4 separate regions of the Homo sapiens genome follow, and all the other regions are reported to be linked to region 3. The links are microRNA targets in miRTarBase. Many come from high-throughput screens and were not tested one by one. Region 3 holds a microRNA gene; each other region holds the end of a gene's coding sequence.

What was found. Region 3 holds the annotated microRNA hsa-miR-5582-3p (UAAAACUUUAAGUGUGCCUAGG, at 4,463-4,484, shown strand). A microRNA usually pairs through its seed, bases 2 to 8, with sites in the 3' UTR of a target mRNA and lowers its output. Matches are read on the target gene's strand: a 7mer-m8 pairs with bases 2 to 8, a 7mer-A1 pairs with bases 2 to 7 and ends in A, and an 8mer does both.
Region 1: the mRNA of CMTM4 is a reported target of hsa-miR-5582-3p. Seed matches in the 3' UTR shown: 7mer-m8 at 1,694-1,700 and 7mer-m8 at 3,656-3,662.
Region 2: the mRNA of SCIN is a reported target of hsa-miR-5582-3p. Seed matches in the 3' UTR shown: 8mer at 1,370-1,377.
Region 4: miRTarBase lists HMGN4 as a target of hsa-miR-5582-3p. Seed matches in the 3' UTR shown: 8mer at 2,267-2,274.

The regions. Positions count from the first base shown.
Region 1 is chr16:66,615,749-66,623,700 of GRCh38, reverse strand. CMTM4 (CKLF like MARVEL transmembrane domain containing 4) reads left to right here. Exons shown (of 4, transcript NM_181521.3): 3 at 199-297; 4 at 1,479-7,952. The coding sequence ends at 1,643. Among named protein-coding and RNA genes, the nearest start is that of CMTM3, 15 kb to the right of the region's middle. RefSeq lists an enhancer at 3,318-3,819.
Region 2 is chr7:12,650,944-12,658,895 of GRCh38, reverse strand. It overlaps SCIN (scinderin), which reads right to left. Exons shown (of 16, transcript NM_001112706.3): 15 at 6,995-7,055; 16 at 1-6,308. The coding sequence ends at 6,181. Among named protein-coding and RNA genes, the nearest start is that of ARL4A, 33 kb to the left of the region's middle.
Region 3 is chr11:46,749,657-46,757,608 of GRCh38, reverse strand. It overlaps MIR5582 (microRNA 5582), which reads left to right and starts at 4,417; the gene lies at 4,417-4,484. CKAP5 (cytoskeleton associated protein 5) reads left to right here. Exons shown (of 44, transcript NM_001008938.4): 36 at 2,542-2,721; 37 at 4,112-4,299; 38 at 4,899-4,974; 39 at 6,075-6,263; 40 at 6,354-6,491; 41 at 6,998-7,081; 42 at 7,176-7,335.
Region 4 is chr6:26,543,281-26,551,107 of GRCh38, forward strand. HMGN4 (high mobility group nucleosomal binding domain 4) reads left to right here. Exons shown (of 2, transcript NM_006353.3): 2 at 1,847-3,653. The coding sequence starts at 1,927. The coding sequence ends at 2,199. Among named protein-coding and RNA genes, the nearest start is that of TRA-CGC1-1, 6.3 kb to the right of the region's middle. RefSeq lists enhancers at 5,856-6,810, 7,070-7,604, 7,589-7,638.

The DNA of each region.
Region 1 (7,952 bases), not on the chromosome of region 3:
GTGATTTATCAAGTAGTGTCATAAACTGTTAACTTTGCCTTCTTTTGTGTGACCAGTAACCCTGTGACATTGAGACTGAAATATGGAGCCACCAGGGAGGTTGGGTATCGTGGGTCTTATTTTGAAAGTTCTCCAGTTGCTTTTAGAGCAAAGATGGAATGGTTCTTTTCACTTGGTTTATTTTGTCTCTCCCTTTAGGATTTGGTCAACACTGGACTCAGCGCTTTCCTTTTCTTTATTGCTTCAATCGTACTGGCTGCTTTAAACCATAGAGCCGGAGCAGAAATTGCTGCCGTGGTAAGCAAACTCAAATGGTTAAAGCAAGCTGATCTGGGGACCTCCTGTGACCTGCTCGCCTGTCCCTGGCATGTGTCCTGCTCCCCCTCCTGTGGCTTTTCTTTGCTAAAGATGATGTTACTGGGCCAGTGGGGGTCCCAGTCCCTTCAGTGCTGTGGTTCTCAAAGTATGGGCCCCAGAACAGCAGCCTTGGCATCTGTTAGACATCCTTAGGCTCCGCTCCAGAGCTACTGAGTCAGAAATGTATTTGAAGTAACCCTCTGGATGATACAGATGTGCTCTCAAGTTCAAGAACCCCTGCTTTGGTTCGTTTCCAACACAGTCCTTGATGTCTAAGAGCCTTATCTGCCTGGGGAAGGGAGGGTTCTTGAATGCAGTCATGACACCATTTAGCAGTCACATGACATTTCAAGGTGGAAATGCCACGGCAGGTGGGGACCAGATAATGTAGGACTTCCCCTCTCCATGCCCTGCATTTCTGTATTGTTCTCAGTTTATGAGGAACAGTTATCCTTTTTGTAATGGGGGGATTAAAAGGTTTATAAATGATTAAACGAACTGCTCTCCCAGGTGCCACTCAGGCGATTTGTAAGTCTTAATAATTAAAACTCTGTGCTTCTTACTCTGGAGCTGCTTACTTGGAGCTGCCCCATGAGAGGCAGGTGTGGGATGGGGGCTGTGATGTGGAACATTGGCCCTGTGGCTTGATTTGGGACCCACATGCGAAACCCTGATTTTCTGTCTATGTTACATTTTGTCTGCACTGTATTTTCTCATCTGGGACCAGAGGCCCTGAAGTTGCAGTAAAAGAGGTACTTTTGTGATTTATTTTTTTATACGTCCAAAATACTTCAAAAGAAACCTTAGGCTGTCTTTAGGTCAGGCAAGATTTTCTGTGTGTCACATGACTAGAGACTCAGCTGTGGTGTGACAGCCACACATCCAGCAGGGCTGGGCACAGGCTTCCCTTTGACTCTGAGCCACCCCGTCATATGTATTTGAAACAAGACTTTAGATCAAATGGGGCTGCTGAGAGGGGGAAGAGATCAAGGAATGAAGGCACAGGGTTGTAATGATCAGCTGGCAGAGCAGGAAGGGGCTGCATGTGGCTTGGGTCACCACAGAAGCCTTGAGGGGCCAGGCCACGTGCCCGAGGACTAACTGTGCTGGTGTGTTTTTAGATATTTGGCTTCTTGGCGACTGCGGCATATGCAGTGAACACATTCCTGGCAGTGCAGAAATGGAGAGTCAGCGTCCGCCAGCAGAGCACCAATGACTACATCCGAGCCCGCACGGAGTCCAGGGATGTGGACAGTCGCCCTGAGATCCAGCGCCTGGACACGTGAGGACCTGCCTGGATCCTCCTCCCTCCCGTCCTCGTGCCTGTCTCTCAGTCAAGTTTTCTTTCCCTTGTCCTGTCAGATTTCCATGTGATTCAGTTGAATTTTGTCCTCTTTGGTAAAAGTTCATTTTGGGAAAGGGTTTCCCGAGTGGCCCAGTGGGCGGGTCCGCGGTGGAGTTGGGAGGCCCACGTTCCTCAGCGTTTGGGGCTGTGGAGCAGCCGGCGTCACTGCCCAGGTCCACTTGAGGTCTTACCTGCCCTGAAGCACAGGCTTCCTTTGACTCTGAGCCACCTTGTCGTGTGTATTTGTAACAAGACTTTGGATTAAATGGGGCTGCTAAGAGGGGGGAAATATGAAGGAATGAAGGGACAGCATTGGAACGGTCAGTCGGCAGTGGTTCTCAGGCAGCCTTAGGCACCACCTGCTCCAAGTCAGTGTTGAGTCTGCGTGCTGGGATCCAGCCCACTCCTCATCTTCCATGCCAGGGCCCCCAGGCAGCCAGCACCAGCCCAAAGGCCACAGGGCTGGGGAAAGCTGATGTCCTGTTAGGATGGCTCCCAGGGACCTCTGACTCAAGGAAGGGTGACCTTTTGTTTCCTACTCTGCTGAGAAATCACTTGATTCTTCCTCAAATGAATCACCTTCCTGAACCCCAGATTCTTCTCCAGGAATATGGGGGCCATCTTGTTATGGGGACTATCTTGTTTTCCAGTTTCCTGCCTACCCTAAATACTTTGAGGCTGAATTGCAGATTTTCAGTCATTTTACCTTCTCAGGTAAAAGCCATGAAAGAAACAAGCCTACTCCACCAGCCAAAGCACTTGCCCATTTGCTGGCTTCATGAACCGCAGGTGGGAGGTGTTTGTGTTAAAAAACAGCATGCACACGCGTGCGCGCACACATGCACACACACACCCCTCTATTTTAGGGATGTGTGCTAATTTTCTAAATGCCTGCAAAGAGTTCTAAAATGATTCTGAGCAGATTCGTCTAGGATTTGAAAATACTTGAATTTGCACCAGAACACACCCTTCCACCCATGTTTCAGAAGGCACTAATTGTCGCTTTGGGCGCCTCAGTGTCATAACTGTAGACATCATTCTTGGGAGTTGTTGGGGGGAAAAATCCTAGCTACTTAAGGTTTCTGATTGATTCTTGATAAAGTGAAGATTATTGTGTGTGGTGAATGAGTTCAGTGAGTCCCCATGATGCAGTAGTTTTTTTAAAAAATTAGAGAGTAATTATATCTTTTATGGAAAAAAGTTGTTTTAGTTTGTCAGGTTTTCCCTCTTTGAACTGTTTTTAATGTTTACAAACCTCACTTTAGCTCTAACATTTTGTGTTTAGCCCTCACCAAAAAGCACTTACTGTGGCAGGAAGATTTTGCAGTAACATGGAGAAATCCCCAAGATCAAGTGCTGACAAATGTTGACAGCTTTAGCAGCGTACTGTGTAATAAATAACTCCGAGGGGGCGGCGGGGGGTCTGTGCAAGAAAGCGTCACCTTATGGACATGTGGCGTCTCATTCCCCAGAAAAGGACAGCATCTGAGCTCACAGTGTTGATCAGGCAACACTGCTGGGCTGGGGGTCGGAGTTGGGGTTAGCTTCCTGCACCAACACCTTCAGTACGATCTGAGTTGGGAGCAGTGTCCCAGGCTATGTGGCTGAGCACCACGTCTGCCTCAGGGGCTGACCCTGCTAGCCTGTTAACAACTCGTCTCCCCTCTGCTCCCACAGAGAGGGCAGCCAGGCCAGCTCACAGCTGGGTGTGCTGCCTGTCAGGTCTGTTGAGTGTGTTTGCAAAGTCAAAATTGGGCTTATCTCTCTTTGAGAGTTCCTTTTAAAATAGGGCCACAAAGGCTCAGCCTTGCATTAAATGGGGCCCACTTGGAAGGACCATCCTGAGCTTTATCAGAAATCTCCTGCTGGGAATCATGTTACTTGGCCCCCAAAAAAGGCCATCTTTGAAGTGAGATTGAAAACAAGAACACCATTCAGGTGGGCTTGTTGCCCAAGTTTTCCCAGCTCACTTCAGTAAAACCACTTGATCATCTGGTGAAAGAGGGGGGCAGGTGGTTGGCCTCCTGAGGATATGTTGTCAGCTGCAAGAAATAGTTCTGAAGTCACTGAAACTAAATGCAGATGAATGACCAAAAAGGATGACACGCCAGAGAGTGACTTAGGAGTTAATTTGCATCTTCGTGATAGACTCTTCAGAATTATTTATGTCCCTGTAACTATTTAATATCCTTTGTGCCGTGAGGCTCCTCGGTGGTTTTGTAAATGTTCTCCTTGTATTTAATTAACTCCCACTAGAACCGGAAGTGGTGCTATGGACGCTTTCTAGTTGATGTAATGTGTGGTTGCACATGTCATCATGTATAGACCACGTGGTGACGAAAGTTCTGGAGGGAATAGGGTTATCCAAGGTGAATATGAAGACGCCTATATTTTTCTTATATTGCCTCTATATGCAAACAGAAGACAATCGATATCTGGGGGCCTTAAAATGACCTCTTGGCAAATTGAAGGAAGCGTTTTTGCGTTTAATAGTTTCAATAGGGACCAATATCAGTTTGGTTTGGGGCATTTGAAGGCTGAGCGACCTTAGTTTTTCTCAGTGTTCTGGTGGGACGATATTGGTTTTCACATTTAAAGCAAAACTTGAAGAAACTGCAGTTGCTGTGTGCATTTGGGTTTTTTCCTGGACACTGTACAGCTGAAACCCTCAAGCATTTGGTGGAACCTCTGGTGGTTTTAGATGGATGCAAACACTGATGTCCTCAGAGAAAGTTTATTTTGGCACTGATTGGGTGGATTTGGTATTTTTTCCCTCTGATTCTCTTTGATATCCTTCTTTCACACTGCTGAAGGCATGGGAGGGAAATATGTTTTCCCTGCCTTAAAGAGGGATTACAGTCATGAAAGGCTGGAGATACTTGTTGGCCCCACATAAAGCTGGGAAGAACAGATGCAGTTTCAGATTAAAATCTCGTCAGAGAAGTTTGATTTGAAGTAAACAGCCATCCGAGGGAGGTGACTTTTGTCTACAGAAAAAGCAAGAATGTGGCAGCCTGCACAGCCCCAATACACATCTTCCTTGGCAATGTGAGCTGAAGCCAGCATGGGCAAGTCCGGCCCAGCTCTGAGCGCTTGGCCCTGGGAAGCCAGCGGCACCCCCAGCCCTTCGGGCCCTGTTACTGTCCCCTGGCAGGAAGGCTCACGCCTGTGGGCAGCCAGGGAATGTGTCTGACCTCCACCCTATGTCGGGTGCTTCTGGGACAGCTTCGTGACTCAGTTGAAAACATTCTGACTCTCTTCAAGTTTGCAGTTACATCTGTGGTTCTTGGAAGCTGTCCTAGTGAGTCAGCCTTGGGTTAAGCCTGAGGAGACCAAGCTCCAACACCTTTGTGCACTCATGTACGTGAATTCTTGCTTGCAGTGAATGAGACCTGAACAACCCTAGTGGGTGCCATGTCCTGCGTGTGGCCCAGGCGTACCTTTTCTTGTAGATTCACATGAGAAACCCGTCACCTATCCATGTGCTCTGAGAGGTGGACTGAGGTCTAATCCCTTTCTGTGCCAGATTTTCTGTGGGTTGGTCTTAGCACCTAGGAGATGAATAGAGCATGGAGACACCTGAACAATTTAGTGATTCTGCAAGGCAGTGATGATTTAAGGGTTCCTATTGTCTCATCTGTGTTCAAAACAAAACAGTCATGAAGTCTTTGTGCCACTGCCTGACTGTCATCTTCTCCAGATCTTGTTTACAGAGTAATAATGACGTTAAACAGGTATCAGAAAGGGGAAAAAGTTTCTAGGCCAAGAGCTGCTGGTGGATTCTCTTGAGCAGAATAACAAGTTGCTTCCTGCTCCAGGGACTGCCATTAGCTTGTGAAGTCTCTAGGTGCCTTGTTATTTCCTAGTGAAGTTGCAGAATCCAGGGTTTTTTCCAGGTTTGTCTTATTTTATCAGCACCCACGTCCAGGCCCAACAGCTTGGTAGGCTGGTGAGGTCCACACACGGCCAGGTCTGGGAGATAAGGGAGGAAGCAGTGGCCTGGAACACCCCACCTGTCTGCTATCAGCACTAGACAGCTCAGGCTGTCTTGGAAACGTGTACTTTGTTAACTGCCTTCCTGTCCTCTTGTCTTTGAAAGCTGTCTCGCGTTCCACAGTCAGCTTGAGGGCAAGAGTGGGATGCTGGGGACAGGTCTTTCCCGTCCTGTGGGTGAGCTCCTGGCATCTGGCTCAGGAACATGTGGGTCCAGCAGGTGACTCTGAAGCTGGCTTGGCTGCCATCTCAGACAGGACGCAGGCCTGACACCCTCAGCTTTTAGCTTTGTAAACTTCCCTGGCGCTTTGTAGAATCTTGTGTTTCTTCTCTTCTCAGCAGATATCATTCAAGTCACAAGAACTGTCTGGTTGAGAAAGTAATTTAAAATATTTGACCTTTTATGTTTCTTTTATTTAGAAACTGTGAGAGAAAATACCGTCAATATCTGTTAGGTCTAGAAAAATTTTCTTCCGAAAGTGAATGTTCTGTTTAATTCTTCTTCATGCAAGTGAGTGGCATTTTGTACACTCTTTAGCTTGAAGCGGAGTGGGTCCTATTGTATTTTCCCTTCTTTTGTCTGGAATATATTCTTTTTCCATTTGGATACAGTTTTTCAACCTTTGGGATTTTTTTTTCCTTTCTAGTTTTTCCTACTCCACAAACGTAACAGTAAGGAAAAAATCACCCACAAACCTGCTGAGTTTGAATCACTGGCAACTTGCCTAGAAAAGTTCAGATGATGGGTCCTTGAACTGTGTATCTATTTCATAGGGTAAGTTTGTTGTCTATGTTTGTTTTTTTATGCTGAGGCTTTAATTCAGGTGACTTGCTATCTAGACACCTGGGGTGGCGTGTTTTCTTTGGGATGCATAATACACAAAGGCCAGGGAGCCTTTGGCTTGGACCCCCAGGGAGCTATTGAAACTTTTAAAGTTTGAGTTTAGGAGTAAGAACATATCTCAGACCACCTTAGTCAGCTTTGCTGATGGGATTTAGGGCCAGGTCAGAGTTTCTTTTCATAACTGCCTGAAAAGAGAGATGGTGTGAAACAAGATTCTGATAATGGTTTGTGTGAGATTTGATCATAGTCTAAAACTATCACGTCTGAGTTGCCTTAGGATGACAGTGCTGACACCCAGTAGGAAGTATCCCATTTTTATCAGGAAAGTCAGTCACGCGTAGGGATGGTGAGGAGACGCGTAGGGATGGTGAGGAGGGGAGAGGAGGGAGACCTGCTGGTGCCCTTGCACCAGGGTGAGGCCTGACTCACGCTGCTTCCCCCCACAGGCCCTGCTTTGCTTGCCTGCTTTTTCCAGAATCGATTTTGCAAGCTTCAAGATTCTGTTCCCCTCTTCGCAGAAGTGAGGAAGGCAAATACTCAGGGTTTGAAGGGAGACCTGGCCGGCCTGAGGGCTGGCAGATGTGAGGGCAGGACACCTGGGATGGACTCGTAGGCTGACCCAGGCCCAAAGGGGGCTGCCTGTTCCCAACTCTTTCACTCTGTAACCCATTTTAAAATGAGTTTTTGAATCTTGCCTCAAATTGACCTACTTGGATAAAATCAGTGCTTTTCCTAACTTGATTTTGTTTGACGTGGTTCCCTCTAAGAGAATGGTAGGAATTGAAACTATTTGTATATGTTGAAATTTGTAGGGGTTCAGGAACCCATGGCAGAAACACTAAACTATTTATTTACAAGTATGACTATTTTTTTTTCAAAGTAGGCAATTCTTTGTATATTTTAAGGCAAATAATCACTTCACCTCTGGTGCCTTCCATGCGTCGCATAAGCACTCTTGTCAATCATGGAATTGGAAAAAAAGATGTACATTTAGTTAAACAAGATAACACTATTTTTGTAGCATGATTTTAGATTGTGTCCTTTTAATATTGTTTTCAACAATGGTAGTTTTGAGGTTTTGGCCATTTTCTCTTTACACTTCGTATGTATTTTAAAGAAGAAAAAAAACAAAAAAAATTCCCTGGCTATTCCTCTTTCCTCTCTGCTGCTGCTTCTCCTGCATCTTGTTCCTGCTTATTTAAATAGTCTGAGAGTAAGAGTATATTTCTGTGAAATAATTATAAGTCAGTATAATTGCATTTGGCATTTTTTAACCACTTGCTCAGTTTGGAGCCACTGCTCACCTCAAACAGTACAAAGAAAGTGGTTCCATATTTTACAAACAGAAGAGTAGCATCAGAGCCCTGACCTCCTGTCTTTGGGTGTAAAATGGTGAGAGGCCGGTGTCCGGCT
Region 2 (7,952 bases), not on the chromosome of region 3:
AATTTGTATGCTGAAAAATACAATAGCCATTCAAAACACTATACATTCTACAGTAATTACAATTTCTACTCGTAATATTCCATGAGTTGCCCAACTTTACTGATAAACTCTAATGCTATCTGTATCTAAAATAAATGATAGGATGTATATTAATACCTTGAGGACTCCTTCCCACAGCAGAGGGTGCAGCCCCAAGCTAGAGAGGAAAATCATACAAGAGAGTCTTGGCATCACCTTTCTGTACAACCAGGTTCCCCAAGCACCTGGCTCCTTCAAAATAATGGAGATAATCAAACAACATCAGTTGCCTCCCTTTCTTGTTTCATTGTATCCTCTGAACTCTGCCATAAACTCCATTATGCATGCCAAAACTCTAAAATGTGGAACAACATTGTTTCTCAGAAGGCATTGTGTTACTGAAGAATCCAGGCTCAGGTTCGTTGGAAAGGGAATGCATTAGGAGAGATTTTCACCTACATAGCATCTTTGGTGTGTCAATACTCCAGTGAAACCCTGCCCACATTCACCTCTTCCTTTGACCTTTCTAAGGAGTTAAGGGCCCTGCTCTATCATTCTCACTACTATTCCAGTTAAAGCTCATCAGTTCCCTGGGAGGTGAGATCTGGCAAAATATATTCCATCTAAGGATCACAAGCTAATGACAATGTCAAATAATTAGGAAAACTCAAATTTGCTTATTCTTGTTTACTGTTTACCTAGAAGTTGGCGTTAGAATGATTTGGATAACATCAACATTAGTTTTATTTCATGAATTATTAAAACCTTAGATTGAGTCACAGTGAACTTGCAGGGATATTTTAATTCAGTATTGTTTGCAATCAGCACAGAAATAATGGAAAACAATTTATGATGAGACATTTTTAGTAAAGGTGTCATTTTTATTATAATAACATCAAAAATAATCTCTCTAAATAAGATGGAGTTTGTCATGTTAACTAAATTAAAGCATCAATTTTTTATAGGCAACAGGAAATATGACTACTGAATTCTTATTCCTATAATAGAAGAAAAGTATATTAGAAATTATCATTCCGAAGAAATGGAGACATGATGAAATGCATGCAAATGCCATAGTCAATTATAAACTAGAAATAACATCTTAATAAGGGACTGATGTTGTCAAATAATACTTGGCTGCTTTTCACATCAATATGAAAAAGAGAAAAACAACACAGGCTGCAAAGGCCCAAGGGAAAATAATACCTCTGATTTGTCTTCCACTGATTGCATTATACAAGGAAATTGCTAAACAATATCTTTGTTTTTTTGCCAATGCAAAAAAAAAAAAAAAAAAAAAAAAAATATATATATATATATATATATATATATATATATACACACACATATATAAAACTTAAAAATTCGTGTCCAGATGCGGTGGCTCATGCCTGTAATCCCAGCATATTGGGAGGCCAAGGCAGGTGGATTTCCTGAGTCTAGGAGTTCAAGACCAGCCTGGACAACATGGCAAAACCCCATCTCTACAAAGAATTAGCTGGGCGTGGTGGCACGCACCTAGAGTCCCAGCTCCTGGGGAGACTGAGGTGGGAGGATTGCTTGAACCCAGGAGGCAGAGATTGCAGTGAGCAGAGATCGCTACTGTACTCCAGCCTGGGCAACAGAGTGAGAACCTATCTCAAAAAAAAAAAAAAAAAAAAAAAAATCATATTATATCCTTTAGTACACACATGTATGCATTTTTGTTGGGTACACACCATGGAGTGGGATTTCTGGATTATAGGATATGTGTATGTTCATTTTAGTAGAAAATACAAAAACTGTTCAAACCCATTGTATCAATTTATACTTCCCAAGTAGTGGATGTAAGCTCCAGTTTCACTATATCCTCTCCTGTATTTTTACTTGGCATTACCAAGTAAAATATTTGATTTTAGTCATTTCCTAATGAATATTAAAGTTGAGCCACTTTTTACAGGTTTTTTTTTTCTTCCCCCGAGACGGAGACTCTCATCGTCACGCAGGCTGGAGTACAGTGGCGCGTACTTTCGCTCCAACCTCCGCCTCCCGGGTTCAAGCGATTCTCCTGCCTCAGCCTCCCGAGTAGCTAGGATTACAGGCGCCCGCCACTACGCCCAGCTAATTTTTTGTATTTTTAGTAGAGACGGGGTTTCACTATGTTGGTCAGGCTGGTCTCGGACTCCTGGCCTCGTGATCCAACCGCCTTGGCCTTTCAAAGTGCTGGGATTACAGGCGTCAGCCACTGCGCCCGGCCTTTTTACAGGTTTAATGGCTACTTTTCTAACAGTTTTTGTGAAGTGCATTTATAAGCCAGTTTTTTCTCTGAGTTGTCCGTTTTATCCAAGAGCAAGAACACGGAATGAATGATAATTCTACATATGCGGGGCATTTGTAGGCTTTTAAATTCAAGTTCAGTTCAAATGAATTAGGTTTAAAATAAATGTTTAAAATAAATAAATTAGGTTTAAAATAAATTAGGTTTAAAATAAATAAATTAGGTTTAAAATAAATTAGGTTTAAAAGAAAATAAAATAAGTGTTTTCTTTCAGTTCAAAGTAATTATCTACCTACTTTTTCAGCAGAAGGGCTTGTGTCACTACACAACAGTATAAATTCACAGTATATAGCTTTGGAGAATGATTGGGACAAGAATTGCTTGATGACTGAATAATGAGTTAAGTGGACTGATGTTTTATGTTTATAGTGTGTTCCTAATCATTACTGGAGGCCAAAACATTGTTCAAAATACAATGTGAAGGCCATTCTCTTTACCAGAACTGCTAGAAATAAGTGGTGGGAAATATTATTTGATGAGCTATCTAAGACGAGAAGAGAACACTGAGGATTGTGCTTGAGAAGATACAGAGGATCTAAATGGCTCACCAAGGCTCTCCGGCACCAAGAGGTAAATGCAGGACCTCTGTTTGACTGAGTTGAGTATGAATTTCTTGAATCAGAGAGAAAAGATGAGGCTGACCTCTACTAACAGTAGGCTTCCTGGGTCTTTCTGTTCTTTCTTTCTTCTGATTAAATATTAGATAAATATGCCAATATATTGGTTTGAAGAGACACAAGCATATTAACTTGCTAGGGAACACCTGTATCTCTTTCTCCACATGTACCTAGTCTAATGTGTTTGGTTTTAGATTAGTACATACGTTTGGCAAATATATAATATTTTTTGTGTATGTTTACAAAAGTAATACTGTGCTATGGATCAAAAAGTTTTGACCAGTTTATACATCTATTAACAGTGTATGGGTGAACCTGTAACCCTACATTTTGATGACCACTAACATTTTAATATTTTAACATTTGCTAATCTGGTAGATAGATAAAAGTATGATTATTTTATTGTGAATTTATTTAATTAAGAGTGTCTTAGAACATCTTTTCATTATTTACTGGTCATTTTCATTCTTTTCTGTGAACTTCTATTCATGTCTTTTGGCCATTTTTCCATTGGGTTGTTGACTCATTGATTTGTAAGAGTTTCTTTTCAGTGAAAGGAATTCCTTAAGTAGCTATAACATTAGCTGTATGTATTACATATTAATTTCTAAGTTACTCATCTGTTTTGGGTACTAGATACAGTTGATTTATCATATCTGTGGGTTCTACATCTGCGGATCAAAACTATTTGGGGAAAAACAATAAAATAATACAACAATACAAAAGTAATGCAAATTAAAAAACCAATATAGTATAACAACTGTTTACACAGCGTTTACACTGTATTAGGTATTATAAGTAACGCAGAGATGACTTAGAGTATACAGGAGAATGGTATAGGTTTTATGCAAATACTATGCCGTTTTATATAAGGGACTTGAGCATTCAAGGATGTTGGTATCCATGGGGTTCCTCGAGCCAATCTCCCGCGGATACTGAAGAAAAACCGTATATCATATTTTCATGTAGTGAATGTATCATATTTTTAATTTTATGCTTCATGAGTACATGCATCTTTGCCGTGATGCATTCAGAAATTATGCTTATGTTCTTCTTTTTCCATCCTTTGGGCAGGTTAAAACCCTGCAACAGAACTGAATAATCATTTTAGGCTCTCAGCAACTTTTATTCTGCCTTATCATCTTGCTGCTGATCTCATTTTTGATATTGCCATTCAATAAATATTAACTGAGACCCTACTATATGCCTCGGCCTGTGCTATAAATTGGAGATGAGAAAAACCACTGGCTAAACTAGAGAAACATCGTAAAATACAGTGTACCCTAAGCCACTCACCTTGACCTTTACTAATTTTGTGAAAAAGTACTACTTATTAAATCATTTTATTCTCATCATCCTTCAAAAAATATTCAGCTTGACCCAGAAGATATTTATAAATATTTTTAAAAATTATTTTTCACTCAATTACATTCCTAGAAATGTTAAATGTCTACTTACATCATTTTTGTTGCATGCAGGACTAGCACTATATTTATTAGTACAGGTTACACTGCCATAGCAAGAAAACGCCTTTTTAGGTAAATTTTCCTTTAGGCAAATGTCAGAATTGGGTCACATGGTCATAATCAAGTTGAAGTAAGGCTGAGAAATCTCATGCCTGCCTGGACGGCCACATTATCTGCTAAAATATCAGTGAATTCTATGATTAAAAGAAAATAGAGATATTCAATACTAAGGGACAGCAGCTTCTACCATAGTCCATTTGTGTGGTAAGTCAGTTGTCTCTTTAGTTTTTTCATTCCACATGAAGGATGAGAAAAATTCATGTGGGATGAATTGTTGGACCCTACATTGTTCATCCTTTAGGGCCCAACAATTCTGAGCTTTTGGCTAAGAATCTAGAATCTCTACATGAGGCAAAGTTCTTTCCATGGGTTCTAACGTAGCTTCTTCTTTTTCAATGACCTATATAGATTAGTAGATAATGCAACTGCCACTCAGTGTATCAGTATATACTGATATACAATGGTATATTGGAAATAAAATAGAATGAAATAATAGAATAGAATAGAATGGAATGGAATAGAATCAGGGTAACTGCGATAAAAATTATTACTTAGAAAAGGGAAGAATGGAAAACATAAAAACTCACTTTTCTGTAGCTTTGCTGAAATCTTGCAGGACAAAAATTGCTAAGATTCTCTAGTGGCTACCTGCCAGTAAGTAACTTGATATCGTTAACTTACTTGAACTTGGCTCTGCTCCCTGGGATACTCCCCTGTGCATTGTCTTTTTGATCTCCTGTGATATTAAACATGTACTGTACATGTACATGTATCTAAGTGGATAACAATACAATTCATTTTGTCATGAAAGAGCTGTGTTTTCAAAGGCTTTTAATAAGGTTAAAAAAAAGATAAAATTCCTCTTAGAAAATAACACTTAGCAGTTAATGACATCAAAGTCATATTGACTAAAGAAGGAAAATAGCAACCAATTGTTAAAGCCACCTTAACATAAACCTTATTGCAAGTATACACATCTTTTGAACACAATCTATAGAAAAGAGAATAACTTCCAAGGCATTACAACTTTTTCTCTGGCATGTTAAAAAACAACTCTGACTAATGGCTAATGCATTATAAAATTTCCTATCTGACAAATCTTTCTAGATTATGCATAGTATTTTACTTTTGAAAGGTCATAAAAAAGATATAAATCAGTTTCCATAAGAGCTAATATTGGCCCATAACGAAAGTTTCCTTCAGGTTATTTTAATGTATTAACGTAAGAAAACTCCAGGTGAAGAAGAATTTCAAGCCAAAACTAAGCATTAAAAAATAGGCGTTTGGTTGAGGTTAATTTTTTTTTTTTTTTTTTTTGAGACAGAGTCTCTGTTGCCCAGGCTGGAGTGTGGTGGCGCAATCCTGGCTCACTGCAACCTCAGCCTCCTGGGTTCAAGCAATTTTCCTGTCTCAGCCTTCCAAGTAGCAGGGACTACAGGCGTGCACCACCACGCGCAGCTAATTTTTTTGTATTTTTAGTAGAGGCGAGGTTTCGCCATGTTGGCCAGGCTGGTCTCGAAATCCTGACCCCAGTGATCCGCCTACCTCATCCTCTCAAAGTGCTGGGATTACAGGTGTGAGCCACCGCGCCCAGCCTTAATTTTCAAAAGACAAATAAGCAAAAAGCTTTTCCCGTTCCTCTCCCAAAACAGCAATGAGATAACTGCCTTGTAATGTTTGTTTGCTTTTTACAAATACCAATTTACCACTTGCTGGAATCCCAGCCCAGGAACCAGCCTGTGAATGTGGGTGGCTCATGGCCCTGTTTTATGATGACAATTGGTGTCCTCTTGTCTCTTCCAGAAGGGTCTGTCTCAAGGTACATTTTGGCTAAAAAAAGTTGTAAAGACATATAAATTCAGTTAGTTTGGGTTAAACTAAAGTAACTGCAGATTGAAAATTCTTCGAATAAAAGTAATGAATTAAATTTCCAGAAGAACAAATAAATATTGGCTACATTGAAAATGAAAATTCTTCGAATACAATTCTTCAAATCAAAGTAATAAATTTCCATTGACCAGGTAGACAAATACAATTTCTTTTTGATTTCTCTCGTCTGCCATGAAAGGCAACATGTGAATCTCATTAATGCCTGAAAGAATTCCAAGTTTTATGGAATTGTCCTTGTGGCATAATTATTGTTATACGTTTCAGTAAAAGGAAAATTGTGCCAGAAAGAACAGCATAGTCAAAAGGAAGTTTAAAAAATCTGGCTTATCACAGTCATGGAGGTTTTACTCTTATAATAAAACAAGGGTTGAAATTAATTTAAGTTTTCAGATTAAATTGATATAATTCTATTCTAGATTAGATAACAAAACATATTGTTTTCTTGTGCCCATTTGGAAATTCTCCAGTTCAAAAAATCCCATTACTCTTTAGTTTTGAGGAGGAATGCTAAGCTACTTCTTGATTTTGAAATGTATTTTTGTAAGACATGGTGGCAAAGAGCAAGCCAGACACTCGGTCATAATGGTGCCCGGTTACTGCTATAATGGTCCATCGATTGAGCTTACCAGACTTCAGAGATTCTTTTTTCTCAACTTCATTAGCATCTTTGCCAATCCAAATAAATATCTGAAAAATGAAACAATAACAATATGTATGATTTCTGGGATGTTGACTCAGTGCTAGGCCCTATGTAAAGTGCTTCACACACACATTGCTCATTCAATCTTCACAATATCCGCAGAAGTTAGGGACGTGGAGGTGGTGGCCCAGAGAGGTACCATCACTTTCCCAGTGTTCACACTCATCAGGAGACACCTAAATCTACATCCAGCCTGTTTCACTTCAGATTTCACACTTGGATATTTTATGTTTACATGGTACTTTCTAGTTTGTAAAGTGATCTTTCACAAAAAAAAACAGATTGTCTGGGTGGACTTTTTTTTTTCATCCACCCCCTAGGGTGTGACAGCAGTCGAAGGAAACCAAAATATTTCACCTCCGAATACACTTCTTTGACATATTTCGAGATGGCTGTTCAGAGGACTTGCAAACAGAAATAGCCCTGCAAATCTGCCTTTTGTAGGGGAAGATCTGCATCTGTAGAGAATCTGCAGTGGTGCAGCCGGACTTTCTTTGAGGCCCTCCCTTTTCGGGATCTAGGGAAGATTAACTGAGAGTATCACACTCTTAAAGGTCTGAAAGAAACATTTACCATCTATACTTTATGTGAGGTTTTATCCATAACAAGACCATCTTTCCTAGCCAGGCCTCTTCTCTCCCTCCCATAACCAGTTTTGCCATCCTGCAATCCCCCATTCTTTCTGTAACTTCAAAATGGTAGAAAAGCATCAACCATCCAGCCATTTATTTAGTTCTTGCATTCTGTATGACTCCTGTGAACATTAATATATTTGTATGCCTTTTCTCCTATTAATCTGCCCTTTATCAACTGATTTTTATGTGAACCTGTGGACAGTGAAGGGGAAATTTTCCCTTGGCCCTTACACAGTCATTATCCCCATT
Region 3 (7,952 bases):
TCCATCTCCAAAAAATAAACAAATAAATAAATAAAATTTAAAAAATAAAAAATAAAACAACCCAAAGTGAATCAACAACAATGTGACAAAATGAAAATTTTTTTGTAATTTTTTTTTTGAGATGGAGTCTCGCCGTTGCCAAGTCTGGAGTGCAGTGGGGCGATTTCAGCTCACTGCAGCCTCTGCCTCCTGGGTTCAAGCAATTCTCCTGCCTCGGCCTCCCTAGCAGCTGGGATTACAGGCACCCACCACCACGCCCAGCTAATTTTTGTGTTTTTAGTAGAGACAGGGTTTCACCAGGTTGACCAGGCTGGTCTTGAACTCCCAACCTCAGGTGATCCACCTGCCTCGGCCTCCCAAAGTGCTGGGATTACAGGCGTGAGCCACTGCGTCAGGGTGATAAAAGGAAATTATGTGCTACACTGATAGGATCCAGTGACAGTTCCACATCACTTTGCTGATAATTCTAATGTTGCATAACCTGAATCATGGGAAACATCAGAGAAATACAAATTAAGGACATTTTATAAAGATTCAAGGTCAAAGCTGGGCGCTGTGGCTCATGCCTATAATCCCAGCACTTTGGGAGGCCGAGGTGGGCAGATCACCTGAGGTCAGGGGTTCGAGACCAGCCTGACCAACATGGAGAAACCCTGACTCTATTAAAAATACAAAAAAAAAAAAAAATAGCCGGGCATAGTGGCACATGCCTGTAATCCCAGCTACTCCGGAGGCTGAGGCAGGAGGATAGCTTGAACCCGGGAGGTGGAGGTTGCTATGAGCCAAGATTGTGCCATTGCACTCCAGCCTGGGCAACAAGAATGAAACTTTGTCTCAAAAAAAAAAAAAAAAAATTCAAGGTCCAGAAAGTCAAGGAAACACTGAAGAACTGTCCTACACTATAAAGAGACTGAGAGACATGACAGGTAAATGCAGTGCATGATTCTCGACTGGTCTTTTGCTTTAAAGGACATAATTGAGGTCATTAGAGAAAATGGAATGGGGTCTGAGGATTAGATGGTAGTAACATCAATGTTAATTTCTTGATGTTGATGGTTTTATTGTACTTATGAAGGAGAATGTCCTTGTTGTTAATAAGTATACCCTAAAGTATCAGGGTATGGAACATCAGATTGACAACTTACTCTTAAATGATTCAGGATAAAAGAGTTCCTTTACTACCCTTTCAACGTTTCTGTAATGTACTTTTTTTTTCACCTTTGCAGGTTTTTTGTTTGTATTAATTGTGGAAGAAATTACTCTGGCTGCTCTAGAGATAAGATTATATGCATGGCAAGAGTGAATTCAGCAATTTTTTTAGGAAGTTGTGGCCAAAATTTATATGAAAGATATTATGTGCCACTAGGATGATAATGGTGAAGAGGAAGGAAGTCATGGTTTCAGGGTTTCTTTTGGAAGTAGAATCCACAGAACTTGCCAATAGATTAGATATAAACAATGCCTTATTATCATTAGTGACAACCAGTGTACTGCAACAGAACACTGGACCAGTATGTGAGAAAGCTGAGTTTTTGAGTTTGGACCAGTAGTCTGATCTTTCTGAGCCTCACTTTTCATCTGTTAAATGGAGATCTTAATATCAGCCCTGTCTGAAGAGTCTAAAAAGCACTCTTTTTAATAAATTGAACATTTAAACATAAGTATTTTTGTTTTGTTTCTGAGACGGAGTCTCGCTTTGTCACCCAGGCTGGAGTTCAGTGTCGTGATCTCGGTTCACTGCATCCTCCGCCTCCTGGGTTCAAGCAATTCTCCTGCCTCAGCCTCCCGAGTAGCTGAGATTACAGGTGCCTACCACCATGCCAGGCTAATTTTTCTATTTTTGGTAGAGATGGGGTTTCACCATGTTGGCCAGGCTGATCTCCTACTCGTGACCTCAAGTGACTCACCTACCTTGGCCTCCCAAAGTGCTGGGATTACAGATGTGAGCCACTGTGCCCAGCCAAACATAAGGATTATTATTCCCTGAACTAGACAATGAGCCTCTTAGAATCGAACCTGTGACTAATGTATCTAGTATCTTGCTCAGTAAATATTTGCCGAATGACTGAATCCCTAAGGACTAGTTATTTATATTTAAATGGGGCCAGGTGCGGTGGCTCACGCCTGTAATCCCAGCACTTTGGGAAGCCAAGGTGGGTGGATCACGAGGTCAAGAGTTCGAGACCAGCCTGGCCAACATGGTGAAACCCCGTCTCTACTTAAAATACAAAAATTGGCGTGGTGGCAGGCGCCTGTAATCCTAGCTACTTAGGAGGCTGAGGCAGGAGAATCACTTGAAACCGGAAGGTGGAGGTTGCAGTGAGCCAAGATCGTGCCACTGCACACCAGCCTGGGTGAAAGCAAAATTCTCTCTCAAAATAATAAATGAATAAAATAAATAAGTAAATGGGCTTTTTTTTAAGGTAAGACTTTAGAAGTACTTTGCTAATAAATATTCTTATGGAGAAGTTTCATATAGTGTCTTCCGCTATTTTAGAAGTATGAAGCTTGGAAAATATATCTTGAAATTTTTGTTATCAGATCGATGAGGTCCTGAGACAGGAAGACAAAGCTGAAGCCATGTCCGGCCATATTGATCAGTTTCTGATAGCCACTTTTATGCAGCTAAGACTCATCTACAACACACACATGGCAGATGAGAAATTGGAGAAGGACGAGATCATCAAGTTGTATAGCTGTATCATTGGCAACATGATTTCGGTAAGGGCACCTCTGCAGAATTTCAGCTTCCCATCAATCTCTCAGCCTACAGAGGTTCAAAAGCCAGAGTCCATGCAGATGTTGCAGTGAGTCCTGTGTCACTTGGTAGAATTTTACATGCATTGTATATAGCAAGCTACTGATGGCTTCCATTGGATGTTTGGCTACACTCCATCCCACCTTACTGTTAGGATATAAAGTAACATGCTTACAGACTACCTAGCTTCTTCCGGCCAGTTTCTTCATCAGGCATGGTAGGCCATAGCTGCCTTTCCACAGATAAGTATGGTTCTATTAAAAATGCTAATTAGCCTGGTTTGATCAGTATACATTGTATACATGTGTTGAAATACCACTCTGTATTCCATAAATTTGTACAATTATTACATGTCAACTAAAAATAAAAGGGAAAAAATTTGTTAATGTTTTACCTGTAGAGCAGATTATAAGGATAATAAAGACATTCTCACTCAGATTTCAATATTCTTTCTTAAACTGGGGCTAAAAGGGTGGACTTAATGACACCAACTAGCCAGAAATTACAAATTTGGCATAACAGTAAATAATTTCACATGTAAAAACAAATACTTTGGCCAGGCACAGTGGCTCACACCTATAATCTCAGCACGTTGGGAGGCCAAGGCGGGTGGATCACAATGTCAGGAGTTCAAGATCAGCCTGGCCAAGATGGTGAAACCCCATCTCTACTAAAAATACAAAAAATTAGCCAGGCCTGGTGGCGGGCGCCTGTAATCCCAGCTACTCGGGAGGCTGAGGCAGAGAATTGCTTGAACCCAGGAGGCGGAGCTTTCAGTGAGCCGAGATCGTGCCACTGCACTCCAGTCTGGGCAACAGAGCAAGACTCTGTCTCAAAAAAAAAACAAAAAATTTCACAATTAGAAGCACACCGATTAATTTTGCCTATTACTAGAGGCTTGGGGGAGTGTGGTGATTTTGTTTTTTCTTTAATACTCTGAATTTTTACAAATATAACATAGCCGGGCGCGGTGGCTCACGCCTGTAATCCCAGCACTTCAGGAGGCCAAGGCAGGTGGATCACGAAGTCAGGAGATCGAGACCATCCTGGCTAACACGGTGAAACCCCATCTCTACTAAAAAAAAAAAATACAAAAATTAGCCCAGCGTGGTGGTGGGTGCCTGTAGTCCCAGCTACTCGGGAGACTGAGGCAGGAGAATGGCATGAACCGGGGAGGCAGAGCTTGCAGTAAGCCAAGATCACGCCACTGGCACTCCAGCCTGGGCGACAGAGGAGACTCCGTCTCAAAAAAAAAATACAACATAATTGAATATTTATCAGAATATGCCACCCACATTTCTTTACTCTCTATATTGAGTTTTACACCTCCCTGACACAAGTATGTCTGGATAGCTGTTTCAGATAGAGAGCCTTGCCCGGGAGGCCTCCACTGGAGTACTAAAAGACCTAATGCATGGCCTCATCACCTTAATGCTGGATTCTCGGATTGAAGATCTTGAGGAAGGACAACAGGTCATCCGCTCTGTGAACCTCTTGGTGGTGAAGGTTCTGGAGAAGTCAGACCAGACCAACATCCTGAGGTATATCTGTACTCTCAGCCAATAGAGCCTGGGGCATCCTCGCTTTTGTTTACACTTAGAAACCATAATGTCCGTAAGTCAACTTCCTAGGCAACCTAACAATCATAATCAACTTCCTAGGCACACTTAAAGTTATAGCTACATCAGTTATAACTATATCAGTTAAAACTTTAAGTGTGCCTAGGAAGTTGATTTATTACTCTTCTTCATCATGGACCAAAGGTATTTTAGCCTGAGACCATAGCTAAAACTAGTAAATACTTAGTTAGCCAGCCAATATCATGCATTTTCTATAATAGGACTGTAAAGTTTGTCAGTTACATTTTTCTTGTACATTTCAGGTACATTTTATTCTTTCTCAGCTACCAATGACAATGAAAAATAGAGTCACAAACCTTACACTTACCAAGTGGTGACTTAAAAGGCTTAAACAATGTTTATTTTCTTAACTGAATGTCAGGTAGTCCAGGACAATTCCTGATCCATGACCTCTCAGTTTATTAGATGAATAGAGTAATCTCACTTGCCCTTTCAACTGCTGATTCTAATTGGAATGCAGGTTTGAAACTTAATGCTGTTGTGTTGGGTTTTTCTTCCAGTGCCCTACTTGTTTTGCTCCAAGACAGCCTGCTAGCAACAGCCAGTTCTCCCAAATTCTCAGAGCTTGTTATGAAGGTGAAGTTGAAATGATTTGATCTCTTTTCTTTCAAAGATGCAATCACTTTGTTAAAAGTATGGGGAAAGAGGAATTGGAGCTAAGAAAGACATAGGCTCAAATCAACCAAGTCACACCTGAAAATATATTTTTCGTAATAAAAATATTAATAAATTTTTAAAAATTTAGCCAGGTGCAGTGGCATGCACCTATAGTAGCAGCTACTCAGGAGGCTGAGTTGAGGAGATTACTTGAACCCAGAAGTGAGCTTGATCATACCACTACACTCCAGCCTTGGCAACAGTGAGACCCCATCTCTTAAAAAATATATATATGGTTTTTTATATATATGTGTATTATATATATGTATATATGTATTATATATGTATATCTTAATATGTTATATATGTATATAATACACGTGTGTGTGTGTGTGTGTGTGTGTGTGTGTGTGTGTGTGTATATATATATATATATATATATATATATATATGAATTGGTCTTCAGTTTTTCCCTTCCTACAATTTATATTCTAAGTTCAGGCCTAAACAGTTCGTGGCCTCAAACAGTGAAAGGGAGGAAATATTTTGTAAATATTTTACTAATTCTCTGAGGATCAAAAGGAAAGAAGTTTGAAACAGATTTCATTTATTTTGGGGAAAAAGATATCTACAGCCCTATGATATTTGGTCTCTTTTGTGAAAGAGACCAAATGAACATATTTATAACATTGTAATACTGTTATTACACTGAATTAGTATCAGATATTTTGTCCCCTTGCATTAGATTTGGTTAAGCAACATGAACTACTTTACTCTCAGGAACGAAGGAAACCCAAGAGAGAATTTCTACCAGGTTAAATGATGGCCCCTAGCTCTGGGGAGTGGGAAGGAGTAGAGATGGATGATTAGATGAATGACTGGACACACTTCAGCTGGTGTCATGGTAGAAGTGATTAAAAATTTTCATGTTTTAGCAGCTGAACTTGAAAGATATGATGTGCCACATTTATAGCCCTGGCCATCTTTTAGAAGTGAGCTCAAAGCTTAGGGAAGATGAATGGTGACAAATTATCCTCATTCTTCAGTCACTCCTAACTCTTTTATTCTTTTTTCAATAGTGTCTCTGGAGAATGGTTCGACTGTTGCCTGATACCATCAATAGCATTAACCTAGACAGAATTCTTCTGGATATCCACATTTTCATGAAGGTCTTCCCCAAAGAGAAACTGAAGCAATGCAAAAGTGAATTTCCCATAAGGACCCTAAAGACCCTGCTACACACCTTATGCAAATTAAAAGGGCCCAAGGTGAGTAAGAATCGCAACTGGTCTCTGAGGGAGCTTGAGAGAAAATCATGGAAATGGCAGTGCTATCAGTCATGCATGTGTCTCCCTCAGATCCTGGACCACCTAACGATGATCGACAACAAAAACGAGTCTGAGCTGGAGGCCCATCTCTGCCGGATGATGAAGCACAGTATGGACCAGACTGGGAGCAAGTCTGATAAGGAAACAGAAAAGGGAGCATCTCGAATAGTGAGTGGCCTGACTTGAAAGATTGAGGGACATGAGGCTACACCGGAAGTGATCTTATCTAAGGTGTAGGTCACCAGGATATGCTTTCCGAAGGTCCAAGGTGAAGGCTCATGGACTGGTTGAATCAGTCTCCTGCTGTGGTGCAGTAACCATTTCCACCTTGAAATTTTAAAATCTAAACTAAGTATAACCATGTGTTTTTTGGTCCCCAAGAAAGATGCCTAAGGCATTGGTCACCAGATAAATAGCTAGTTCTGCTTAACATGGAAAGAATATGTCAGTTCCTTCTCCATCAAGTTGAGGTGGAAATCTGAGACTGGAGGCATTCAGTAACACAGAATGTTAGTGCTTCTGCTGCAAGACCTGCATCATCGGTGCATCTGTTATCTGTAGGAACATACCAATAAGGCCCAGATTTTGAGATATTTTCTGTTCATATCCAACCATCAGTTCCTAATTAATAACTCAAGTCTAACCAATTCTTCCTATGTCTTTCAACTTTTCAGGATGAAAAATCATCAAAGGCCAAAGTGAATGATTTCTTAGCTGAGATTTTTAAGAAGATTGGCTCTAAAGAAAACACTAAAGAGGTGAGAGTGAAAGGGTTAAGCAGAATAGGGGTCTGCTTTATGGTAAAGGGACACTAACATTCATCCCCACCTCTTCCCTTTTCCTGTTCACCAGGGACTAGCAGAGTTATATGAATATAAGAAGAAATACTCAGATGCTGACATTGAACCATTTCTGAAAAATTCCTCACAGTTCTTCCAGAGCTATGTCGAAAGAGGCCTTCGGGTGATTGAGATGGAGAGGGAGGGCAAAGGTCGTATTTCCACTTCAACAGGTATGGTTTCCTGTTATAGCTCCAGGAATAAGCTCAAAATAGCTCCTAGCACAGGAACCTGAAGTTTTGGTTAGTTTAAATTCATATCCATGAACCTCAATACTTAATGGTCACCAAATGGCCTTCCCATTGCTATATCCAGTGGTCAATTCTTAGCCACCTGAATTGACCCATCATCAGTATTTGACAATGGTAAATAAATTGTTCCCTGCCCTTGAGACAGCTTCTTCACTTCGCTTCCAGTTCTCCATGCTGTCTTGTTTTCCTCCAGTCTCACTGGCTATTCCTTCTTGGCCTTTGACTGATTCTTGCTCACTTGCTCTGACCTCTTTTTTTTTTTTTTTTTGAGATGGAGTTTCACTCTTGTTGCTCGGGCTGGAGTGCAGTGGTGCAATCTCGGGTTCAAGCTATTCTCCTGCCTCAGCCTCCCGAGTAGCTGGGATTACAGGCATGCGCCACCACGCCAGGCTAATTTTTTGTATTTTTAGTAAAGACGGGGTTTCTCCATGTTAGGCTGGTCTGGAACTCCTGACCTCAGGTGATCCGCCCGCCTCAGCCTCCCAAAGTGCTGAGATGATGCTCATGAGCCACTGCGCCTGGCCTCACTCTGACCTTTT
Region 4 (7,827 bases), not on the chromosome of region 3:
TAATGTTGCATTTGAAATAAAGGGAAAAAGACAAAAATTAGCAATAAATTCATGTAATGTCTAGGCAAGGATTTCTTCAGAAGAGAGCAGGTCAGGTGTAGTTAGATCAGTAGAACTGTATGTCTCAGTGGCACCATTACCTTTTTTTTTTTTTTTTTTGAAGCAGAGTCTCACTCTGTCCCCCAGGCTGGAGTGCAGTGGCACAATCTCGGCTCACTGCAACCTCCGCCTCCCAGGTTCAAGCAATTCTCAGGTGGATCACCTGATGTCAGGAGTTCGAGACTAGCCTGGCCAACACGGTGAAACCCTGTCTCTAGTAAAAATACAAAAATTGGCTGGGTATGGTGGCGTGCGCCTGTAATCCCAGCTACCCAGGAGGCTGAGGCAGGAGAATTGCTTGAACCCGGGAGGCAGAGGTTGCAGTGAGCCGAGATCGCACCACTGCACTCCAGCCTGGGTGACAGAACGAGACTCTGAGACTCTATCTCAAAAAAAAAAAAAAAAAAAAAAAAAAACTGGAGCAATTTGGAGACAAGATTAAAAAAATAATAATAACATTGTAGAATGGTGGCCACTCACAAGGTTACAGAATTTCCCAGTAAATGTTTTCAAGGGTGGGGCAGAAGGTATGATAGACAAAAGCTTTAAAAAAGTCACACAGTGCCCATGAATGCCAGCCCTAGGCCTAAGTCCTAATTACTCAAACTCAAACTATTTTCCATTTCCTACCTGTGTGGCTCTCAATCTGTGCTCTGGGCTACCCACATTTTTTAGTACTTTTATTAATTCTTGAGCAGACACATACAATTTTTCTGTGTAAGACATAGGTAATACTCCAGCCATGTGCTTCCCCTACAGTTTAAAGAAGAGAATGCAACCTCCCCCATCTCTGGACTAACCTCCATGCCTTCTCCAACTACATCCCTTTCCCAACTCCCAAGAGATGACCACTGTCCAATTTTTATTTATCCCTTTTTTTTTAAGTTTTACTATATGTTTGTGGCCTCAACATGTCATAGTTTTACATGTGTAAATGGATCTATAGTGTACATATTCTTCTGCAACTTGCTATTTTTCTTCGGCATTATATTCTTGAGATTCATCCTCGTTTTTGAACCTACCTGTAATCTATTTGTTTCTGCTGCTGAATGGTATTCCCTTTTATACATACTACCAAAATATATGCATCCCTTCTACTATTGAAGGACATTTGGGTGATTTACAGGTTTTTGAAATTACAGTGTTGCTAGAAACATTCTTGTGGAGATCTCCTGTCCACACCTCCAAGAATCCCTCTAAGTAAACACCTAGAAGTAAAATTGCTTTACACAATACCACTGTTTGCAGAGTGCTTTACAAATAACCACTGTTTCCAAAAGCAAATACACTAATTGGCACACACACACAGCAGTACATAAGGGTTTTGATTGCTCCATATCAGCTGAGCCCTTGATATTGTCAGACAACTTGGTTTTCCTCAGTTTGATAGATATGAAATGTTATATCCTATGCTTTTAATATGTACTTCTTATATATTTTTAGGTGCTTATTCCTCACTCATGCTTCCAAGAAGTACCTGTTAACATTTTTTGCCATAGTTTTAAAATTTTCATTTTGTCCTTTCCTCATGGATCTATAGGAATGCTTTATGTATTCAGGATTCTAACATTTTGTCCATTATATATTTTACATATATCTTTGCCAAGCTGGTACTTATTGTTTTACTTTTATTATGCTATCTTTTTTGATATACACGAATTATTAACAATATAGTCAATTTGATTTTTAACGTTTACATTCGTCAGTCTTTCCCTTTATGGTTTACGCTTTTTGTGTCTTGTTAAAGACATCTTTCCAGGAACAGCGTGAGGAGGACAGAAGCACCCAACAGGACTGCTCAAGCCACCTGCGAACACTGCTGCTACCATGCCCAAGAGAAAGGCAAAAGGAGATGCTAAAGGTGATAAAGCAAAGGTGAAGGATGAGCCACAGAGGAGATCAGCTCGGTTGTCTGCTAAACCAGCTCCTCCAAAACCAGAGCCCAGGCCTAAAAAGGCCTCTGCAAAGAAGGGAGAGAAGCTTCCCAAAGGGAGAAAGGGGAAAGCAGATGCTGGAAAGGATGGGAACAACCCTGCAAAAAACCGAGATGCCTCTACACTCCAGTCCCAGAAAGCGGAAGGCACTGGGGATGCCAAGTGAAATGTACATTTTTGAGAGCTCTGTACTTATAGTGACTCTACTGTTTGAAATACTATTTTTTTAAATCAAGTTTTATAAAAGTGTAGAATTTTGGCTTTTTTAAGTTATGTTGTTAGCACACAGGACACTTCCTTGTTGTCTTTTGTGGAAAGGGCAAGTACCACTAATAGGGTGTATCTCAGAAACTGAATTGAAATAAGGGAAAATAGGATTTTCTGTCCTGGTTTTTGAAGATTGTTCTTGATTCCCTTGATTCCCAGGAGAGATTCTCTGACATTCACGTGTCAGCCACTTTGGCACGGAAGCCTTACAGTGTGGGGAACCAAAACTTCGTGTCTCCCCTTTCCCCGATGCCATCAGCATAGACTTGACTTCCTTAAACCGAGAGTTTTGATGTGGCCTTGGCAACCCTAAAATCAGCTGTGTTAGGTAACAAAACTCAGGCTTTCTGTTGATGACATCGAGATGGTGTCACTTAAAAGAGCCAAGATTCCTGTTTTCAGTTTGTGGATTCATCCTGCTGGTTTTACTTTAGTCCCTCCATGTCAAAGTGGGCCTGAGAAAAGCTCATACATGCCTCATGTGAAGTGTCCACCCTCTCTGAAAATCTTTCTTGTTCAAAACAGCAACGACATATCTTGTTAACTTTTACGGTGACTTTTGGAGGAGGGGAGTTTGGAAATTGTAAAATGTTATAGATTGTTGCCTATTTCCTGCTGAAAGTAAATGTTTTTAAAAAGTATCATATAAAGCTGAATACAAATTGGTTTGGGGGGAGATCCTTTCCTACCCAAAGTCATAAATATATTCTTTACTGCCTTGTGGAAATTTTATAGTTTTGCCTTTCACATTTGTCTTTAGTCTGTCCTGAACTGATTTTTGTGAAAATTATGAGTTAGAAATTCAACTTAACATTTTTCATATTCGAAGTGGTTGTCTCTGCACTATTTACTGAAAAGTTCATCCTTTCCCCAGTGATTTGTAACACTGCCTCTTTCATAAATTAAATTTTTGTGTATGTGTGTGGGTCTTTTGATGGTTTCTATTCTGACTGACATCAATTTGTCTAATCTTGTAGCAGTACAGTACAGTCCTGATTATTGCAACTTTAGGAAAAGGTCTGATAAAAACCAAGATGCCTCCACATTTTGTCATAATTGTAACCAATTTCACCTCTGTCTCCAGTATCACCACAAAATTGTTCTTCCTTGGAGTGTCTTGGCTATTCTTAGCCAACTGTTCCTCCATATTACTTCTAGAATTAGACCAACAATTTATAAATCAAACAAACCCAAGAGCATTGAAATTTTGATTGGATTTGTATTGAATTTATAGATTAATCTGGTAAACCATGTCATCTTTACAATGTTGTCTTCCAATACATGAATATGGTACAGCTCTTCATTTACTTAGGCCTTTGAAATATCTTTCAATAAAGTTTATAATTTTCTCCATAAAGGTCTTCTTGTTAATATTTCCTAGGGACTTTATGCTTTTTAACACTACTTCGTATGGTATATTTTTAGTTACCACATTTTCTGTTTTTAGCTAATGTTGATTTCGATTTTTGTATCCAGCAGCCTTGCTACCTCTCATTCTTGTATCTGCATATTCTTGTGGGTTTGTTTGTTTTTTTTACATAGACAACCATATATTCTGTGTATACAAACAATTTTGTTTCTTCTTAGTCCTTATTATACCTGTAATTTCTTTTTCAAATGGTCAGCGTAGTCTAGGTGTTGGTGTCTGCTTTTTTTTTTTTTTTTTTTTTTTCCCAGACAGAGTCTCACTCTGTCTTCCAGACTGGAGTGCAGTGGTGTGATCTTGGCTCACTGCAACTTCCACCTCCCGGGTTCAAACGATTCTTCTGCCTCAGCCTCCGAGTACCTGGGACTACAGGCGCGCGCCACCACACCCGGCCAATGTTTGTATTTTTAGTAGAGACGGAGTTTCACCATGTTGGCCATGCTGGTCTCGAACTCCTGACCTCAGGTGATCCACCCGCCTCAGCCTCTCAAAGTGCTGGGATTACAGTCGTGCGCCACCACGCCCGGCCGTGTCTCTGCATTTTTTTTTGAAATGGAGTCTCACTCTGTTACCCAGGCTAGAGTGCAGTGGCGCAATCTCTGCTCACTGCAACCTCCGCCCCCGATTCTCCTGCCTCAGCCTCCCGAGTAGCTGGTATTACAGGCACCTACCACCAGGCCCGGCTAATTTTATTATTATTATTATTTTGCATTTTTAGAAGAGACGGGGTTTTGCCATATTGGCCAGGCTGATCTCAACCTCCTGGCCTCAAGTGATCAGCCCGCCTCGGCCTCCCAAAGTGCTGGGATTACAGGCATCAGCCACCATGCCTGGTGCCATTAGAGTTTCGAGCAAAGAAATGGCACAATCTAAGGTGTTTTATATATGTGTGTGTGTGAGTATGGCTGCTGCATGAGCAATAGACTAAGCTGTCACAGCAATCTAGGCAAAACATGTTGATGATTTGGACATGGTATGGAACGGTGAAGAGGTCTGAGAGAGTTGGCAGTAAATAATGCCAAGCTTGGATGATTGCTTAGCCTTTCTGAGCCACAATCTCCTCAGTAACAAAGCAAGAACTATTATCTATTTTGCAAGGTTTTGAAAAGAATTAGAGATACTTTATGGAAATGACTAGTAGTGCAATTTACCTCATTAGCATATTGATGCATAAAGCTCTGTTGAAGATTTGAAAAAAAGATTCATATTTCCCAGAATCTTACATCGCCACTGAAAAACAAGGAAAAAAGACAATTCGATTACTCCACAAAACTGAGACCCAGGCCACTCCATATGGAGCCCTTACTAAAACCAGTAAGTAGCATATATAGTAAAACTGGAATTACATAATAGCATTTTTTTCCATTGTAATAGTGAATTGCTGGCATTTCTACTTTGTCATGCCGTATTACCATCCTTCATCTGCTCAACTATTCCCAATCCATTTTATTTGATAAACAGCAAACATTTATCTGCACTTTATGCCTGACAACAGATTAGGATCAAAGATAAAAGAAATATTCCCTGTTCTCAGCTCAAAGTTGAATGAGAGCCTGGTGCAGTGGCTCACACCTGTAATCCCAGCACTTTGGGAGGCCAAGGCGGGCAGATCATTTGAGGTCAAGAGTTTGAGACCAGCCTGACCAACATAGTGAAACCCTGTCTCCTACTAAAAATACCAAAATATTAGCCAGGCGTGGTGGCGCATCCCTGCAGTCCCAGCTACTCAAGAGGCTGAGGCAGGAGAATCGCTTGAACCGGGGAGGCGGAGGTTGCAGAGAGCCGAGATGGCGCCACTGCACTCCAGCCTGGGCGACAGAGTGAAACTCCATCTCAAAAAAAAAAAAAAAAAAAAAAAAAGTTGAATGGGATAGAGAGATAGGTCACCATACAGTAGTGTGCTCTCTGTTATAACACAGCAAGAGACCCAAACCCTGATGCCAGGGCATGAAGGTGCCTTAGGGAGGACTTCCTGGAGTATGTTGACATATGACCAGCAAAATGAAAACAGAAAGGAGCTGGTCAAGCAAGGAGTGGGGAAAAGGCTTCCAGTAAGAATAATAACATTTACGAAGATGTTAAGAGAATATGGATAGTGCATATAGATGTGCATAGTAGTTGTTTACTTTTATTCTTTTTCACCCCTCTTGCTGTCATCTTAGGTGCATAGTAGATGTTCAATAAATTATTGTTGGATCAAAAAATTAAGATGAATAACCAAATTATATCAGGTTTCTGACTATAATAAAAGAGAATTATTAAGTGTTGTTGCCAAACTGTGTGCCCAGTGATTTACATGAAAAATTTTATTTCGAAAACCCTATGAGCTGAGTAGTATTGTTCTCATTTAACTTTACATTTAGACAAACATAAATTTAGACATATATCAGCCTGGGTGATCTAGAGGTTTTTTTGTTTGCTTGTTTGTTTTTTTGAGACGGAGTTTCACTCTTGTCGCCCAGGCTGGAGTGCATTAGCGCGATCTCAGCTCACTGCAACCTCCGCCTCCCGGGTTCAAGTGATTCTCTTGTCTCACCCTGCCGAGTGGCTGGAATTACAGGCGCCTGCCACCATGTCTGGCTAATCTTTTGTATTTGTTTTAGTCGAGACAGGGTTTCACCATTTTTGCCAGGCTGGTCTCGAACTCCTGACCTCGTGATCCACCCGCCTCGGCCTCCCAAAGTGCTGGGATTACAGGCGTGAGCCACCACGCCCGGCCTAGAGTTTTTAATAACCAAATTTCTGACCCTCACATCTGAGGCACTGAGCATGGAAGAGTTGGAAAGAAGAGGGAGGGAAACTTATTTTTCTGTATCTGTTCTTGCACCACTACCTTCTTTTCTCAATAGTTGTTGTGTTACAGAAAAAGGGTCCCGATCCAGACCCCAAGGGAGGGTTCTTGGCTCTCCCGCAAGAAAGAATTCAGGGCGAGTCCGCAGTGCAAAGTAAAAGCAGGTTTATTAAGAAAGTTAAGTAGTGAAAGTACAGCTACTCCATAGACAGAGTAGGGTGTTCCTGAAACGCGGAGGAAAGTGTCCACCCTAGATACATACCTGTAAGTATGGGGAGATGTGCTCTGCTACAAGGGTCTGTGATAAAGGATTAATTTTCTTATTATATTTTGTAAGAATCGATATTATTATCTTTAAAGCAAAATTTGGAATGCCTTTGTTCTCCAGATATGGGGACATCTAGACACTCCCAAGTCTGGGTCTGTTTAGTAAACATTATTAATTTGTTCCCTTAACCATAAACATCTAGAGGCTAGGAATGCCTGACTTTCTGGGAATGCAGCCCAGCAAAAGTCCCGGCCTCGTTTTCCTAGCCCTCACTCAAAATGGAGTCGCTCTGGTTCGAATGCCTCTCACAGAAATCCCGCTAAAATGTACCTCCCTCGGTTGCGGTGAGCCGTGATCGTGCCACTGCACTCCAGCCTGGGAGATAGAGTGAGAACTCCGTCTCAAAAAAAAAAAAAAAAAATACCTCCTTCTTCTCTCAAAACTCTCCAATGGCTTCCACCCTGGGTCATCAACATGGCCTGGAAGAGCCGTACTCTGGATACCCGAGGGCGCGGCCCCAGCGCCGCGACGCCCCGCCCCTCTGGCTGCTCCGCTCTGGGATGCACTTCCGACGCCCTCTAGGCTTGGGAGTTCCGCGCCTCTCGGTGTCGCCTGGGGGGCGTGCTCCGGTTGGCGCACTGATTCCCAGTTGGGTAGGGGAGGCTTGACTGAGCTCCCACCCGGAATTTCACCTTAGACCTTTAAAGACCTTGCTCCGGCCTCCCGCGCCAGCGCTAACACCTAGTCCTCTTTAGTGGAGTTCCGGCGGAAGGGGATGGCGGGCACCCGACGGTGGTCTCCTCCCAGATGGCGAATTTCCGCGGCTTCTTCATCTTTTAGCTCCCAGGGAGCCCTCTGGCCCCAGCATGAAGCCCATGGAGCCCTTTTCAAAATTGTATTTTTAAAAGCTTTTAAAAAATACACAGGATTTTAAAGAAAGCCAATTGTACTACAAAACAGTTTTCAAACGATTAAAATAATTTCATAGAGTAATGTGTGCTTCTCATTAATGCATTAAATATTAAACATCAAGACCCGTCTT